5 linked regions of the Homo sapiens genome follow. The protein of the gene in region 4 purifies or fractionates together with the protein of the main gene of each other region. This does not show direct contact. Each region holds a gene or a part of one and is shown on either strand. Other genes may lie near its edges.

The links.
Region 1: the proteins of MYF6 (region 4) and KAT14 purify together in Homo sapiens (affinity purification with mass spectrometry; 2 studies listed by BioGRID and IntAct, with this or other methods). This does not show direct contact.
Region 2: the proteins of MYF6 (region 4) and YEATS2 purify together in Homo sapiens (affinity purification with mass spectrometry; one large-scale study listed by BioGRID and IntAct). This does not show direct contact.
Region 3: the proteins of MYF6 (region 4) and MBIP purify together in Homo sapiens (affinity purification with mass spectrometry; 2 studies listed by BioGRID and IntAct, with this or other methods). This does not show direct contact.
Region 5: the proteins of MYF6 (region 4) and IRGC purify together in Homo sapiens (affinity purification with mass spectrometry; 2 studies listed by BioGRID and IntAct, with this or other methods). This does not show direct contact.

What each region holds. Positions count from the first base shown.
Region 1 is NC_000020.11:18,154,854-18,158,370, reverse strand, and holds part of KAT14 (cysteine-rich protein 2-binding protein), read right to left. Parts: intron 1-3,517. UniProt on the Homo sapiens protein: Component of the ATAC complex, a complex with histone acetyltransferase activity on histones H3 and H4. May function as a scaffold for the ATAC complex to promote ATAC complex stability. Has also weak histone acetyltransferase activity toward histone H4.
Region 2 is NC_000003.12:183,809,282-183,812,798, reverse strand, and holds the end of YEATS2 (YEATS domain-containing protein 2), read right to left. Parts: intron 2,781-3,517; exon of another isoform or gene 2,348-2,780; intron 2,325-2,347; coding exon 2,216-2,324; 3' UTR 175-2,215; downstream 1-174. UniProt on the Homo sapiens protein: Chromatin reader component of the ATAC complex, a complex with histone acetyltransferase activity on histones H3 and H4. YEATS2 specifically recognizes and binds histone H3 crotonylated at 'Lys-27' (H3K27cr).
Region 3 is NC_000014.9:36,300,838-36,303,641, forward strand, and holds part of MBIP (MAP3K12-binding inhibitory protein 1), read right to left. Parts: intron 1-2,804. UniProt on the Homo sapiens protein: Inhibits the MAP3K12 activity to induce the activation of the JNK/SAPK pathway. Component of the ATAC complex, a complex with histone acetyltransferase activity on histones H3 and H4.
Region 4 is NC_000012.12:80,706,156-80,709,975, forward strand, and holds MYF6 (myogenic factor 6), read left to right. Parts: upstream 1-1,478; 5' UTR 1,479-1,564; coding exon 1,565-2,083; intron 2,084-2,368; coding exon 2,369-2,459; intron 2,460-2,686; coding exon 2,687-2,805; 3' UTR 2,806-3,319; downstream 3,320-3,820. UniProt on the Homo sapiens protein: Involved in muscle differentiation (myogenic factor). Induces fibroblasts to differentiate into myoblasts. Probable sequence specific DNA-binding protein.
Region 5 is NC_000019.10:43,714,669-43,718,880, reverse strand, and holds the start of IRGC (interferon-inducible GTPase 5), read right to left. Parts: upstream 2,806-4,212; 5' UTR 2,739-2,805; intron 2,005-2,738; exon of another isoform or gene 1,932-2,004; intron 502-1,931; exon of another isoform or gene 434-501; coding exon of another isoform or gene 323-433; coding exon 1-322. UniProt on the Homo sapiens protein: Required for sperm motility and therefore male fertility, via positive regulation of spermatozoa fibrous sheath formation.

The sequences.
Region 1 (3,517 bases), on a different chromosome or scaffold from region 4:
GTCTAACAGTTGGAAGGTATTGCTGGGAAGGCAAAGGAAAACCATTCTGAGGAACAGAGACGTAATATTAATAGAAAACTCAGAAAATAAACAAAACAAATAAGCTCAGCTATAGTAGGCATAAGCACTATCTGAGGCTGGGTGCGGTGGCTCACGCCTGTAATTCCAGCACTTTGGGAGGCCGAGGCGGGTGGATCACCTGAGGTCAGGAGTTCGAGACCAGTTTGGCTGACAGGGTGAAACCCCGTCTCTACTAAAAATACAAAATTAGCTGGGTGTGGTGGCACATGCCTGTAATCCCAGCTACTCGGGAGGGTGAGGCAGGAGAATCTTTGAACCCGAGAGGCGGAGGCTGCAGTGAGCCAAGACTGCACCATTGCACTCCAGCCCGGGCAACAAGAATGAAACTGGGTCTCAAAAAAAGCACTATCTGAGATGGAGAGAATGAAACCCCCAAGCTTTTGGTTCCAAAGTACCTCTCCTACATTCTTATCTTTTTCTAATCTTTCCAAATCCTCTCTAATAAATACAAAATGTAGCATAAACACATACAATAGAATATTATTCAGTCTTAAAAATAAAGGAAATCCTATCACATACTGCAATGTGGATAACCCTTGAGGACACTTATGCTAAGTGAAATAAGCCAGTCCCAAAAAGACAAATACTGTATGGTTCTACATATATGAAGTATTTAGAGTAGTCAAATTCATAGACACAGAAAGTAGAATGGTGACTGCCTAGAGCTGTGGGGAGGGGAGAATGGAGAGTTATTTAATAGGGATAGAGTTTCAGATCTGCAAGCTGAGAAGAGTTCTGGCCATCTGTGAATCTATATTCAAATACGTGAACATACTTAACACCACTGAACTGTACACTTGGAACTGGTTAAGATGGTAAATTTTCACTGTTTTTACTGCAATAAACAAACAGAAGTCTGGGCAACATAGTGAGACCTCATTTTTACAAAAAAATAAAAATAAAAAAATTAGCTGGGTGTGATGGCACGTGCCTGTGGTCCCAGCTACTTGGGAGGTTGAGGTGGGAGGATCACTTGTGCCTGGGAGGTAGTGGCTGCAGTGAGCCATTACTGTGCCATTGCACTCCAGCCTGGGTGACAGGGTGAAACCCTATCTCAAACAAACAAAAACAATAAAAAAGACTGACAAAGACTCAAAAGATTTTAAAAACCAATGTGTTATTTACTGTGTCGAAAACGGGTGCGTACTTGTACATTGACAGTGGGACTATAAATGGGCATATACTTTCTGGAGGTTACTTTCATAATGTACAGCAAAATTGTGTGTATCCTCTGACCTCGCAAATCTACTTCTAATCACAAAAACACAAAGGATATATATACAAGAATATGCCCCACAAGGCTAACTTAAACACAGAAAAACTGGAAATAACATAAATGTTTATAAAATTATCGGCCAGTGTTACAGATTTCATCGTATCCTCCCAAAAGATGTTGGAAGTCCCAGTACTTGTGAATGTGACCTTATGTGCAAACAGTGATCATGAGGTCATTAAGTTGAACACTAATCCAATATGACTGGTGTCCTTACACAAAGGGGAAACTTGGACACAGAGACAGACGTGTAGAGAGGGAAGATGCATGAAGACACAGGGAGAACGTCATCTACAAGCCAAGGAAGGCCTGTGGCTAACAGAAGCTAGGGGAGAGGCATAAAATACTCTCTCCCTCACAGCCTTCAAAAGGAACCAATCCTATCAACACCTGGATTTCAGATTTCCAGCCTCTAGAACTAGAATACATTTCTGTTGTTTAAGCCATCCAGTTTGTGTTACAGCATCATTAGCAAACTAATATAGCCAGCTAAATCACAGCACAACACATAATGAGACATTTGTATGGAATGGAATAAATTTGTTGCCAGGACATATACAAACACAGTATTTATGAATGGCCTCAATAGTTTTCCCCCAAAATTATTATTGTGGTAAAATATACATAACATTTACTATCTGAACAATTTTTAACAGTATAGTTCAGTGGTATTAAGTACATTTATATGGTACAATCACCACCACCATCCACTTTCAGAACACTTTTCACAGGGCAAAACCGAAACTCTATATCCGTTAAACAACTCCCAATTCCACCCTCCCCGCCAAGTGCTGACAACCACCATTCTACGTTCTGTATCTGTGATTTTCACTACCCTAAGTATCTCAGATAAGTGGAATCACACAGTGTTTGTTTTCTTGTGATTGGTTTGTTTCACACAGCATAATGTCCTCAAGGTTCATCTACACTGCAGCATGTGCCAGAATGTCCTTCCTTTTTAAGACTGAATGATATCCACTGTATGTATATGCCACATTTTGCTTATCCATTCATCTACTGATGGACACTTTGGTTGCTTCCACATCTCAGTTATTGTGAATAATGCTGCTAAAAACATGGATATACAAGTATCTCTGAGACCCTGCTTTCAGTCCTTTTGAGTATATACCCAGAAGTGAAATTGCCAGATCATATGATCATTATATTTTTAACTATTTGAGGAAACACCACACCATTTTCCACAACGATTGTACAATTTTACATTCCCACCAACACTGCAAAAGGGTTCCCATTTCTCCACATTCTCGCCCACAGTTGTTGTTTTGTTTCTTTGATAATTGTCATCCTAAGAGGCATGAGGTGGTATCGTGTTATAGATTTGATTTGCATTTCCCTAATGATTAGTGATGCTGAGCATCTTTTGATGTGCTTATTGGCCATTTTAATATCTTTGAAGAAGTGTCTATTAAATGCCTTTACCCATTTTTGCAATGAGGGGAGCTATAACAACAATGGCTGCCATCTCTTTTCACCTCTATGATTAGAAGCAGCAATCAGTGATCAGAGCACAAATACCCAGTATTTGGAAAACAGGCTTATTTTTGCCCACCCTGGATGCTACAAGCTGTGTGTAAGCCACTCCAGGAACACACACACAGCTTTCTTCCTAGTGGCTGGAGAAGGGGGATGGGTAGCACCAAAAAAACCCCCACCTTTTTACATTTAAACTTTAATAACATATTAAAGGCATAAAAGAAAAACCTGTAAACATCTGAAAGAAAATTCAGAACTTCATTACACTGTATAGCATTCTCTTAGATCTTGTGACAAATGAGAAATGGTTACAATTTTTAAGAATTTAAAGTATGTCCTGGCCAGGTGCAGTGGTTCACGCCTATAATCTCAGCATTTTGGGAGGCCAGGCGGGTGGATCACCTGAGGTCAGGAGTTCAAGACCAGCCTGACCAATAAGGTGAAACCCTGTCCCTACGAAAAATACAAAAATTAGTCGTGCATGGTGGGGTGTGCTAACCTAAATAATTTTATGTACCATTGTAGAAACAAGTTAAAAAGTATATGAAAACTTAGTTATTACTGAATAATTGCCTAGTATTTGTTCATTTAATCTGCTTTTACAGTCCTGGCCTTGAATTCTTCCAGAAGGTATAGTTTTGATTAGTGAAGAATAGCTTGAATATTTTC
Region 2 (3,517 bases), on a different chromosome or scaffold from region 4:
TAGACTTTTATGTAACTGTAATCCTTTATCTTATACGGTTGCAACATTTTTTTTTTTTTGGCAAGAAGTAGAGGAATTAATTTAAACATATCAATAAGACTCTACACCATCACCTCATCCCAGTGCAGGGAGAACCCTGCCTGAGTACCATGCTTCAAACTCAGAAACACCCACCACAAATACCAAAAGATTTATTGTAGACAATTTTGTTACACAATTATACACATTATGATACACGTTTGAAACATTAACACACGTGGAGACTGCTAAATCATTTAATATTTCTTTTGCAAAAAGATAATTTCTTTAGGCTGTGATACCTGCAATAACCAATCTGTTCTCATTTGGATCAGATCTTTCTCCCTCTGTCCTGGAGATCTCACAGTTCACTTTGCTGAAGCAATCTATCCACTTCCCTATCGACCTTGCTTATAGCAGTTCAGGTATAGACTATTTGAGCCTTATATACTAAACTGTTAAGCCAGTGCGTGCCCTATGCCCTGCTGAGAATAGATTCCTTCTGTACTTGCAGCCCTCAGATGCTGAATTGATCAATCAATTTTTGAGACGGGGTCTCCTCTGTCACCAGGGCTGGAGTGCAGTGGTATGATCTTGGCACACTGCAACCTCCGCCTCCTGGGTTCAAGTGATTCTTCCTGCCTCAGCCTCCCGAGTAGCTGGAATTACAGGCACACACCACCATGCCCAGCTAATTTTCTGTATTTTTAGTAGAGACGGGGTTTCACCATGTTGGTCGGGCTGGTCTCGAACTCCCAACCTCAGGTGACCCACCCACCTCGACCTCCCAGAGTGCTGGGATTACAGGCGTGAGCCACCATGCCCGGCCCAGATGCTCAATTTAAAAGGCAGAGTTTATTCAGTCACTCCCCGCCTTACCTTCCTGACTCAAACATCTACAGGACCCATGAAAACAGGAATTACGTTGCTTGGGTAAGTTTCTCTGACTCTGACTCACAGGTTTCCGATTTTCCTGGAGCAGAATAGAACAGATTTCTGACTGGGCATGCATTCTTTGTTCTGCCTTCCACACAGGCTGTGTTAGGAAGTCTGAGATGGGGCGCCTCCAATAGACCCGGGCACCTGGCAGCGCCACCTTCTCCTGCCTGCCACTCCCTCCCATCGAGGGGGCCTCTGCTTGTGGACACAGACTAATCTCACTGCTTCTGGGCACTGGCATCCTTATTTCTGGGCATGGGCAGTTACTTCTCCAACTTTAAGGCACTCACTGGTATTTCTTTTAAATACTTTTCTTCTTGGGAAAAACTCCTTAACAGAGAAGAGTATATACAATCCACGGATAGGACAGACGACCCCAGAAGAGCCTGCCGGGCGCCGCTCCCCACTGGCCACTCAGCATGGGGTCAGCAGCAGAAGCTCCTGCAGGCCATGCAGATGGCGTGGAACCTGCGATCTGCTTCGCACACATGTGTAACGCTGCTACACTTCTGCCAAGTGTCTGGGACTGGTGCACACAGTCTATTCCTAGCATAGTGAGTTTTCTTGGTTATAATCAAACCTCTTCCTGACTCCTGTTGGGACCTCTCCGTCCCTTGCCACTGCTTTGACAATGGTTCTAGTAATGCTCTCGTGCTCAAAAAAGGAATTCTGCTCAGTCTGCCGTCTCTCAGGCCTTCATGGTTCTTGGCTCTAGGTATGGCCTCTTCCTATAGCTGACTCACTTGGGCTCAGAGTACAGCCCCTCCACACCAAGGCCAGGCATGGGAGAGAACCACCTGCTGAAGGCTGAAGCCCAATCTCTCTTCAGGGTAACTGCTGGAGCTACTGGTAACTCCAGCCCACAAAATGGGTGAAATCTCTAGCCTGCCACTCATTTTCTACCTCCTGGGGAGGCGGGCCCAAGGAGCCCCCTTAAGCACACCCAGGGAGAAGGGCCTGAGGCACACGGCCTGGCCCGCTCTCGTGGGGCCTTTACAAAGACTGCAGAAACGCTGGCCGACAAAGCACGGATCCACTGACAGCCTCACTCCACACTCAGGAAACAAACTCCTGTCCTAGGAGGATTTCATCTGGAGTGCAGCGTGCTGGTGACACGTGGGAACAGGCAGCGGCAAAGGTTGGGTAGCCATGACATGCCGAGTCACACTGGAAACCACCTCCTTCCCGAGCAGCAGGGTCCTCAGTTACAGCTTCGCTGTGCCTTCAAAGCCTGCTTCTCCAGGGCACCTCACTCCGCTCACTGGTCCTCATTCAATATTCCCATGTGTTTGTTTGTGAGGAAGTCCAGAAAAGGAATGTTGCAAATGGCCTGGTGAATATTACTCACTGTAATTTCTTTGGGAATCCTGGTCCAAAAAACAAAGGGTGTTACCAGGTGAAATTCTCTCACGTATATCTCATCATTTATTCACTTAACTCATCACAGGGACCATCCCAGGCAGAGGCCCCGTGGAGAGGGCTCCTGAGCCACAGACATAGCTTAGGGCCACTCTGGGGTGAGGACTGCCTTCCTGTCATAGGCATGAGAAGGATGTCAACAAGTTGGTTGAATAATTAGGAAAAAAGATTCTGAGAACTGAGAAAAGAGAAAGAAAACAAAGCGGATGGCAGAACGGAATGACACATTTGTGAGTGAGTCTCAGCAGACCGAAAGCTGAGTCAAAGCACCACAAAACTCTGGGACCTTATTTCCCATCTCCTAGAAAGACGGGAGACGGAGCCACGCCAGGCCAGGCGTGATGTTAATCGTTCCATCAAAAGCACCTAAGTCACTCTACCCCTCCAGGACAGGGAGCACAGAGGTAAGCAGGGGCCACAGGAGGCCCTGGCTCACTTGTGGGTCCAAGCAGGACAGTGGGCAGCAGGACCGGAACTCTTGGTTCCCCTTCCTTTTCTCTAAAGACGCCTATGTTGTCTGATATATTCCTGTGAAGTTTCATCTACTATTCCTCTGATTTAGGCCCTTCATGTCCTCAGGCACTTTGCTACAATTTTATAAATCTGTGACAGCCTTTAGCATAATGCAATAAAATAATATTTGTTTCCTCCGAAAGAAAAGCAGATGTGGCCTATCTACCATCCTTTCAGGGCCTAGGAACAGACTGAAACTCAGTGTCTTAATCAAAGACAACGAGTCAGCAAAGAGCAGTGGCGAGCCCAGGGGCCTCAGAGCCAATGAGACCTGAGTCGGAAGTCCAGGTCTACACTGTATTTGCTGGGTAAGCTGGGTAAAATTACCTTTCAAAGCCCGGTTTCCTGATTTTTAAAAAGAGAATAATAGTTCTGCAATGAAAAACAAATTAGGTAATATATGCAACGCTTGGCCCTCGTGTCTGACATGTAATGGACACTGTTATCTTTAATTGCAAAGCTAATATTTATTCAACCCTGTAATAAAACAGAGTCCTAGGTGTCTGTGAAGTAATGAGGAGGATATAAACCTCTGAGCAAAGCTGAGTGAGCTTTCACAACCATGAGGTTCTCTAAAAATGACAAAGCAGACCCTTGAGCTCATCTGGCTCTAAGAGTGTCCTAAGCA
Region 3 (2,804 bases), on a different chromosome or scaffold from region 4:
AAAAGGTAATGTTTAGAAAAATCTAAGCATCATTTTTTTTTCTTTATAAAATACTGTACAAATTATGTACAGCCTTGGGAACCCTGACAGAAAAAAAACCAACCAATTTACCAATACCAATTACTGTCTGTAACCAACATCTACCTTATATTCTGCAAGTTACCCTCTAAAGAGGATGACGTTAACAATATATAATAGTAATATTGCAGCAACATGCTCATCCTTGGCAATACATATTTTCCCATCAACTACCCGCTGCTAATGAGCCTGAGTGATTTCGGAAAGAGGTGCTCTGGGGATTTTCTGCTTAGTTTTTTTTCATAACCTTTCCATCCTAGGGTATTGAACAAGTGAAGTGACAACAGACAAAGGAAAAACGGAATCTGGTATATGAGGCCAAGGGGTGAAAACACACATACACACACCCTGGACTGACTATAGTAGACACTGTGGTTGTTTATGCAAGCAGCTACCTATCCACTACTTCTCTGTGTGGCCCAAGCCAATGGCTTCCCGGTCTTGTCAGTGACTGAAATGGGCATGGGTCCAGTTCTGGCCAATGAGTAAAGGAGAGGTCTGCTGGAGATTAAGAGGAGAGCTTCTGGAAAAAGCTTCCTCACATCTTTTGAGAGAAAGCCCTTAAAGAAGGCAGTTCCTCAGGATACTGCCGTATTGGGTAAGACACCTGAAAGTGCTGTAGCCATCTTGCCATCTGCCTGGGAAAGAAGTTAACACCAAGCAGAGTTAAGAGGGGAAAGAAACCTGTTTTCTCACAATTATGATTTAGCCACTGAATCAATTAAATCTGAAGCTTGTGCTACCATGGACTTCCTATTTTATAATTTACATAATGTTTAAGCCAGTTTTGAGTTCAAATTTCTTAGTTGAAGCTAACAACATTCTCACTGATCCACTAATGAGCCTTTTAAACTTTGGCCTAATGAATTCTTTCTAGACTTTTTCTTAGTTTCACACAAGCACTAGCTTTTGAATGGCAAATTAGTAAATGAGTATATTTGACAAAGAAACTGTGAATGTCCAAGACAAAATGTTCTCATGAGCATTTCTGACTACTGAGATTTTAAAGACAGCATTAAAACTCACATTTTCCTTTGTGTCAAAAGTTGATTCAAAGAACATCTAGGTATGCTTATCAAGTTACAATAAATGGGAAATCATTAAGTATTAGAATTAGTAATTAAGAAATAATAGAGCTCAGATAATTATGCTCCTTCCTTTGCCAAACCAAGCTGGATACCTGTGGTAGGGCCTATGGGCAAATAAGGAATCAATGTTTAATTTGGCGATTGATCAGTCTCCTAACTTCCTAAGAGGTGGCTTTTTATACACTTGATGCAAATATAATTGCCCTTGGCCAGGCGTGGTGGCTCATGCCTGTAATCCCAGCACTTTGGGAGGCCGAGGCGGGTGGATCAAGAGGTCAGGAGATCAAGGCCATCCTGGCTAACATGGTGAAACCCAGTCTCTACTAAAAACACAAACAACTAGCCGGGTGTGGTGGCAGGTGCCTGCAGTCCCAGCTACTTGGGAGGCTGAGGCAGGAGAATGGCATGAACCCGGGAGGCGGAGGTTGCAGTGAGCCGAGACTGCACCACTGCACTCCAGCCTGGGCGACAGAGCAAGACACCATCTTAAAAAAAAAAAAAAAAAAAAAAAAAAAATTCCCCTTGTTCTCCTAATCGTTTAACCTGTAATATATTGATAGTTTCCATGCTATTAAACAATCAGATTACTACTGTATCATAGAACCAAAGCAAGAAATATTAGAATGAGGAAAATAAGGTCATCAGTCGCTCAGTGACTTAAAAACAGTAAAATGTGGCCTTTTGGACTTGTTTTAGCTCTGAGCAGAATATTTTGATAAAAAGAACACTTAGAAATACCATATCTACCGTGGATACACTAGATTAACTTTACTGTTTGTTTTAGGTATAAGGAAATCTCAGTACAGTTCCTGACTTATGATGGCTAGATAAGGTTTTTCAAATTTACAATGCTGTGAAAGTGACAGACATTCAGTAGAAACTGTACTTCAAATGCTGAATTTTGATCTTTTCCTGGGCTAGTGACATGTGATACGATGCTCTCTTGTGATGCTGGGCAGTGGCAGTGAGCAAAGCTCCCAGTCAGCCATGGGGTATGAGGGTAAACACCCGATACTCTACAGTGTACTGTGCTGCCAAGGGACTTTCCTCAACTGTACATGATAGGCCAGTGTACACATTCTGAACATGTTTTAGGCTAGGCTAAGCTATGATGTTTGGTAGGTTAGAGGTGTTGAATGCATTTTAGACTTAATAATATTTTCAGTTTTTGATGGGTTTATTGGGACATAACCCCATCTGTATAGAAGTATAAAAGGTGGACATTTTAACAGGTTTTGGTACCTGAGAGAAAATACTTGAGAGCACAGCACACTAAAGAAAGAGCTGGAGAAAGGTAATGCAAAATTGTCTCTCCTCACCCATTATTTTACCTTACCAGGTTCCTAGTCATGCACCGCTTAATGATGGGGATATATTCTGAGAAATGTGTTAATTTTGTCATTGTGTGAACATCATAGAGTATACTTATAGAAACCTAGATGGTACACACCTAGGCTATATGGTATAGTCTATTGCTCCTAGCATATAAACCTTATGGCATGTTTCTGTATTGAATACTGTAGGCAAGTGTAACACAATGGTATATGTGTATCTAAACACGTCTCAACATAGAAAAGATACAGTAAAAATACCATACTATAATTTTATGGGATCACTGTAATATATGCAGTTGACTGT
Region 4 (3,820 bases):
ATCCCAAAGGCCAGTTACAGCTAGGAAGTCTTTCTAGAGCTCTAGGAGGAAAGGTGAAAGGAAGGGAAAGAACAACAAAACAGAGAGAGGGAAGAAAAAGAAAAACCTCTCCAACAGCTATGCTTTATTTCATTCATAGGAATGAGTCTTTGCCCTAACATGGCTTTATACTACAAATGATAACTACTGTTCATCAAGCAGCTATGTGCTATGTGTTTCACATGCATGGTATCATTTGATTGAATCCTCACTAAAACTGTAAGGAAACCACTATCATCTTGAAGACATCAAGATCTAGTACTTACCCATGGATATATACATAGAAATTAACCTTGCTAGGACTTGATAGTTCTTTGGAATCTAGGGCCCCCGCACTTGACCTTCATATTGTACTGTCTCCCGAAGAACAATACATGTATCTTGTGGACCATGGGCAAGCTGCAATTTAAAAAATGCTGTTTCCTTGCTCGTGCCTTGGTTGCTAACCTTTCTCACTTAAATCCTATCAAACAACTTATTTGGAGTCAATGGATAGTGAGAATGCAAAAGAAAAAGTGGTGAGCACACAGTGTGCAGAACTGGAATCATAAGAGAGGCACCTTGGAGGGGGCCACAAGTAAATGCTGAAATATCAAGTAGCTGTGGTGTGAGTCTTGTTTTCACTAAAACTATTTTTAAGGAGGAGTTACTACATGTATTGTAACCCCATCCTCTATCCCACTCCCTACCTCATATGTAATACTGCTCCACAAATGGAAGGGTACAGAATTCAGATCCTGGTTGCCCCTCTCCCCAAAGGAAAAAAAAAAAAAAAAGATAGTCAAGGACGGTCTCTATGGAAGGACCCAGAGAATCATTTCATCCAGTATCATGGGATGTGAGCACCCTTCAGCAACCCCCTCCATTTCCCAAATCATCTTGCAGCCTTAGTAAAAGAGAGGAAAGAGATTTACCTGCTTCTATTGAGGTTGAAGCCTGAAAGTCATGTATAACCTTTGAAGCACTGTAATGGTTTTAATCACAGGAATAGCATCTTTTTGAGAGGCAGGAGAGAGAAAGGAGCTGAACCACTCTGCAAATATTAACCCGGCTATTTTGGAGCAATGGCTATTGCCTTTGAAATCTTTCATCATGGGTCTATACTTAGAATTCAGATGAGCGCAGGGGGAGGGGAATAGGGCAATGTTAATCCCCAGTTGTTTTGAAGTTGTCCTGTAAGCAGGTTAGTATCTAAACTGCCCAAAATGGAAGGGTTCAATGCTTTGTTTAAGTTATGTGATTCTCTCTGTGTAACCTGGTCTGCACATAGATTGTCACAACACTCTGGGAGGTGACACTTCTCAGTTTTCTTTCAAACTAGATGTTCTAGAGAGCACTAGCTGCAATCACATTGGGAGACTGATGCTCCATGACAGCTAAAAGTTGGATTGAGTTTCAGGAGCTACTATATATAAAGCTGGGTCGACTTATGTCACTGCACTAATTAAATGCCATCTGGGTGGTTCCTCTGGGTTTTTGAGTCCATCACCCAGTTCAGATCGAGTCAGAGGCCAAGGAGGAGAACATGATGATGGACCTTTTTGAAACTGGCTCCTATTTCTTCTACTTGGATGGGGAAAATGTTACTCTGCAGCCATTAGAAGTGGCAGAAGGCTCTCCTTTGTATCCAGGGAGTGATGGTACCTTGTCCCCCTGCCAGGACCAAATGCCCCCGGAAGCGGGGAGCGACAGCAGCGGAGAGGAACATGTCCTGGCGCCCCCGGGCCTGCAGCCTCCACACTGCCCCGGCCAGTGTCTGATCTGGGCTTGCAAGACCTGCAAGAGAAAATCTGCCCCCACTGACCGGCGAAAAGCCGCCACCCTGCGCGAAAGGAGGAGGCTAAAGAAAATCAACGAGGCCTTCGAGGCACTGAAGCGGCGAACTGTGGCCAACCCCAACCAGAGGCTGCCCAAGGTGGAGATTCTGCGGAGCGCCATCAGCTATATTGAGCGGCTGCAGGACCTGCTGCACCGGCTGGATCAGCAGGAGAAGATGCAGGAGCTGGGGGTGGACCCCTTCAGCTACAGACCCAAACAAGAAAATGTAAGCCTAGATGCTGCCGGGGCAGGGAAATGCGAAGGCTGATTAAACGCCTTCCGCGGGGCCTTAACCTCCAGCTGCTTGGTCTTTTTTCCCTTCCCCCTTTCTCGCCCGCCCCTCCCGCTCCGTCTCTAATGAACCCCCAGTGACCCAAGAAGACCGGGTGCTTGCAATAGGCAGGAAATGCGTACCCGGCCCGAGGAAGCAGGAAAGCCGCCCCCCACCCCACCCCAACCCCGGAACCGATGTTTCTTTCCTAATCTGCCGCTGCCTTGGTTTTCCCTCCAGCTTGAGGGTGCGGATTTCCTGCGCACCTGCAGCTCCCAGTGGCCAAGTGTTTCCGATCATTCCAGGGGGCTCGTGATAACGGCTAAGGAAGGTAAAGTAAAAGGGCTCTGGGCCGCACCAGAGAAAATCCGGGAGGTGGATAGGATGCTTGGGCCGAGAGGGCTCGAAGCGAGAGCAGGGACGCGCCCTGCGAAAAGGGCGCTCTTTGCGCGCCGGGACCAGGCCTTTCCTCGCTGCCAAAGCGGCCTCGCGCGGGGCGCGGAGCTGCTTCGTGTTCCTTCTTTGGGTGCTATGTTTGTGTGTTGTTTTTTCGCTCAGGAGGAGCAAGTATTGATTCGTCAGCCTCGAGTAGCCTTCGATGCCTTTCTTCCATCGTGGACAGTATTTCCTCGGAGGAACGCAAACTCCCCTGCGTGGAGGAAGTGGTGGAGAAGTAACTGAGCCTGCGCTTGAGACCTTCTCCACGCAGCAGGAAGATCCCACCGACCCTTCCTGGCCTAATCCTTTAGATTAGGTCACATTACATTAACATTTAGGAACCCAGACCGAAAAGTTGCTGAAAGGGAAGGAGACACATTCACAAAGAAACGTTGCGAAAATTGCGAAATCTGTTGTGCATGCTCAAATGAAAACGCCTTTCGGCTTTGGGCTTTTATTTTTTTGGAACTGCGAGTGGCTTAGGTCTAGCCTCATTTTGTTTTTGTTTGGTTGGTTTTATACTATATTAACTTTTATTACGGTGATCCTTTTGTGCCATGTTCAAAAGAAGTTCATTCCTGTCTAAAGTGGGAAAGTTGCATTTAATGTTAGGGGTATTTAATGTATTTTTGTAAATAGTTTAACACTTTCTTTTTTTACGTAAACCTGAAATATATTTTAAATGTGGAATGATGTATATAAAATGTGCGAGGATCCTGGTATTGTAATATTAAAAAGAAGTTTCTATATGAACAAAGTTGGTCCTAATTTGATGGAACTGGAAAAATATGTTTGGAGGCATGTGTACAAAAATAAAGAGGAGCCATATTTTAATTTAGACACCACACAAGCCCATTTATTTGGGTGTTTCCTTACATGCCAATTGAAAGGAAATTTGGCTTTCCTTAGTCTGAATTAAACTGGATACTGTTCTCTCTCTCGTAGACCTCACACTTGTCATTGGAAGTGAATAGTGCCCAGAAGAAAAATGTCATTTTTCCTTTTATCAGCATCTTTTTCCGTCTGGTTTTACACTCCTATACCTGGAGATCTGGGTGAGATTTACTTACCCAAAGTTAACAATGGAATTTTCAATCTAGGAAAATATGGTTGCAAGAAATTACCACACCAAAACTGTGCTCATTTCCCAAAAAGATCTTCAGCGGATTTACCCACAAACGGCCTTCCCTCTTAGCCTTCCCAGGCCGCTCTTGTCCTGAAGTGTGGATCTGGAGTTCCCGGGGCTGCATCCGG
Region 5 (4,212 bases), on a different chromosome or scaffold from region 4:
TCACGTCAGGGAACTGTGGGTGTGGATAGGGCGACGGTTGCATCGTGGTCTCCATGACGCCCGTGAGAGCCGCGCCAGGGTCCTCGGCCTCCAGGCCACGCAGGGCATTGATGAGGGAGGACTTGCCCGCGCCCGACTCGCCCGTGACGCCCACCTCCAGGCGGATGCTTTCCGTGGAGGCCAGCAGCTCCTGGAGGTGAGAGGCGGCCTGGGGGAGGTCACCCGACTCAAAGGCTGTGCGCAGGGCCTCCAGCCTTTCCTTGGCCATAAGGATGGTGTTTTCCTCCTCCCCAGGCACCACGGGCAACTTTGAAGTAGCCATGGTGGCCAGTGGTTCAGAGGGTGGCGGGGGACAGGGGAGAGTCACAGGATGCGTGATCCTCAGCGCCTGCAGAGGAGAAGGGAGCCATTCACACCTCCTGGGCCTTGGCATGGGGCAGGGAGAGACAGATACCACGGATGTGAAGGGAGTCGCCCTGGAAGCCCACAGCTCTCTTTTTCCTTCAAGAATTGGGGACACATTTTTGGCACAAGTTAGAGGGCTTTGGGGTCTGGCAGGCCCAGGTTCACATCCCTTTTCTGCCACTAACTTGCTGTGTGACCAGGGGCAAAATGAAGCACCTCTCTGGGTAATGGGCATGACCACCAAGCAGCCTCTTGGAGCACTATTGGAGTCTCCAGGGTAACCTAGGCACAGGTCAGTTTTCTGGGTGTATGTGTGCCCTGGAGGGTTCTGTGCTTAGAATGGCCCAGTGCTTGGTTTAATGCTCTGCTGACACTAGCTGAAATTGTTTGTTTGTTTGTTTGTTTGTTTGAGACAGGGTCTCTCTGTCATCGAGGCTGGAGCACAGTGCTACGATCATGGCTCATTGCAGCCTTGATCTCCTTGGCTCTAGCAATCCTCCCACCTCAGCCTCCTGAACAGCTGGGACCACAGGCGCATGCCACCATGCCCAGCTACTTTTTAAATTTTTTGTAGAGATGGGAGTCTCACTATGTTGTCCCAGCTGGTCTTGAACTTCCGAGATCAAGGTCCTCCTGCCTCAGCTTCCCAGAGCGCTGGGATTAAGGGCATGAGCCACTATGCCTGGCCTGAAATTCTTTATAATATTTGAACCAGGGGCCCCATATTTTCATTTCGTACTGGGCCTTGCAAATTATATAGCCAGGGCAAATTACATAGCCAGGGCTGCATAGGAAAGGGTGGTACAGGCCCATTCAGAGGAAACAGCTGCACTCCTGCGGTGGCTGGGATTGGAGGGTAGGGTGGAGGGGACCCAGACCCGGAGCCAGACTGCCTGGGATCAAATCCTGGCTCCACCACATACTTACTGAGTGATGTGAGGCAAGTTACTTAACTCTCTCCTCACTCTCCTCATCTGAACACTGAGAATGATACCTACAATCCTGGCAAACCACCTCCTAGGATCTCTGTGACTTGAATGAGTTATGACATAAAGCAGCCCATAAAACGGCGCCTGGCTCAGGGCAGGTGCCTCGTGTCATTGGCATCACCATCATCGTCATTATTCTTATCATTAGTAATATTCTTAGCTGTGTGACTTTGAGCAAGTCCTCGCCCTGTCTGAGCCTCAGCTGCCCCGTGGGGGATACTCCTCCCCACCTCGCAGGGCTGCTGTGATGCCCACAAACCCCGTTCAGCTAGCCCTAGGCTGACTTTGGGTTCAGACGCCCTTGGGTTCGGGAAGCCAGACATGGGGACCACCTGGACACCAGGAGTCATTTCCATGAAACCCCACCCCTGCCATGGCAGCCCTTGCCTCCCGGGGTTCAGTTCCCCTCCCACCGCCCAGAGCTCCTGTCGTGATGGTCCCCCCTCAGATCCCTCCTCCTCACCAGGAGCTTCCCTGGTCCTCCCTCTTCCCACTCACCCTCCTCTGGCCCATCATCTCTAAAATACATTTACTCACTAAGGGTCTTCAGGGTGCCCTGGGAGAGCTGCTCATGTCTGGGATCACTGTCCCCATTTGACAGGGAGAAGGACTGAGGCTCAGACAAGACAAATGAGGTCTCCTCATCCAGAGGCATAGCCAGGACCCCAACCCAGGTCCCCAGGCTCCTTCACCCACCTAGAGAGCTACTCTCCCTTCAGCTGCATGTCCCTGCCTCCTGCATTGTCTCCTTGCCCCCTGCACCCCGTCTCTTCACCTCCTACCACTCACCCCATCCTCTGCTACCCCACTCCACCCCCCACAGAAATATGTCCTTAAGACATTGTTCCCGGCTGGGCATGGTGGCTCACGCCTGTAATCCTAGCACTTTGGGAGGCCGAGGTGGGTGGATCACTTGAGGTCAGGAGTTCGAGACCAGCCTGGCCAACATGGTGAAACTCCATCTCCACTAAAAATACAAAAATTAGCCAGGTGTTGTGGCGCATGCCTGTAGTCCCAGCTCTTGAACCCAGGAGGCGGAGGTTGCAGTGAGCCAAGATTGCACCACTGCACTCCAGCCTGGGCGACAGAGCGAGACTCCGTCTCAGAAAAAAAAAAAGGAAAAAAAAAAGACATTGTTGCCTCCAGATCTGAGCCTCCTATCCTGGGTGTGCCCTCTCCCTAGTATGGTCTGCGGTGGGAAGAGTAGGAACCTGGAACAGGTCCTGGCAGCAAGGGGCAGACAAGTCAGTGGTTGGAATTTGGGCTGAGGGGGTCCGGATTAGACCATAAGCTCCTGCTCCGCCCACGCACAGGGGCCCAGCGAGAGAGCCCTGGGGGACTCACCTGCCCTGCAGGCTCTCCCTCTCCCCTCACACTCTCCCCACTGATAGGATCTCCTTCCCTCTTAGCCAAGGTCAGACACCGTTGCTAGGACCCATTATCATAGCAAGCAGCAGCTTATTGGTCAGCCAGACCTGGTGCAATAATGCGACAGTGATGTCAGGGGGTGGGGCCCGGAGGTGGAGCAGGGACCCCAAGCCCCAGCTGCTCATGGGGTCACCACCCACTCACACTGGGCCCTCCAGTTCCCCTGAAGACTCCAGAGAGATCTTTCTAACACCAAGACCTGTTCAAAATCCTCCATGGTCTCCATCACCCCCCAAGGACAAAGTCTCAGATTCACAGATTGGTTTCCAAGGGCTTGGCCCTGCTACCACTCCACCCTCCACCCAGGGGACTGTCAGTTCCCCAGAGAAGTGTGAAAGTTGATGATACAAATTCGGTCATTGCTGGTGGGCACAGTGGCTCACGCCTGTAATGCCAGCACTTTGGGAGGCCGAGGCGAGTGCATCACTTGAGGCCAGGAGTTTGAGATCAGCCTGGGCAATGTGGTGAAACTCCATCTCTACTAAAAATACAAAAATTAGCCAGATGTGGTGCATGCATGTAGTCCCAGCTACTCGGGAGGCTGATCTGCTATCTTGTAAGCCCAATAATTTAGTCATTGATTTCTTTTTTTTCTTTTTTTGAAACAGTGTCTTGCTCTGTCACCCAGGCTGGAGTGCAGTGACACAATCTTGGCTCACTGCAACCTCCGCCTCCTGGGTTCAAGTGATTCTCCTGCTTCAGCCTCCTGAGTAGCTGGGACTACTAGCATGCACCACCAGGCTTGGCTAATTTTTTTTTTTTTTTTTTTTTTTTAGTAGAGGTGGGGTTTCACCATGTTGCCTAGGCTGGTCTTGAACTCCTGACCTCAGGTTATCCGCCTGCCTCGCCTCCCAAACCTCCTGACCTCAGGTTATGCCGCCTCCCAAAGCGCTAAGATTACAGGTGTAGCCACTACACCCGGCCCCTTCTTGTCCTTTATAAGTGTCTCTGTCCTGTCTCCCCTCCGGGCTTCCTCTCTGCCCAGGCCAGGCTCCACAGGGCCTTCTCCATTCTCCTCTTGTAGGGAATTTACAATAACGCTACTCAGAGGATTTTCCTGACCATCTGCAGGCCAGTTCTGGAAAGGAGCCTCTGAGAACAACTAAGGAGAGAGAGGCCCAGAAGGGGAATAGACTAGCTCAGAGCCACCCTGAGAGCTGGGGAAGAGTGGGCTGTTGGCCGCATAGTACAGAGTTCTTAAGCCACAGGTGAAAGGGAGGTGCAGGGCAAAAGACACACGACTCACTCATGCTCTCACTGACTGACACAAACACACAGAGCTGAAGAGAGTGAACAACATGGTTCTCAGACTTCCCCGGACACCGAGCACACAGACCAGCAGACAGCAAGGACTCCTTCCCAAAATGCATGGACACGCACCCCTGGCCCA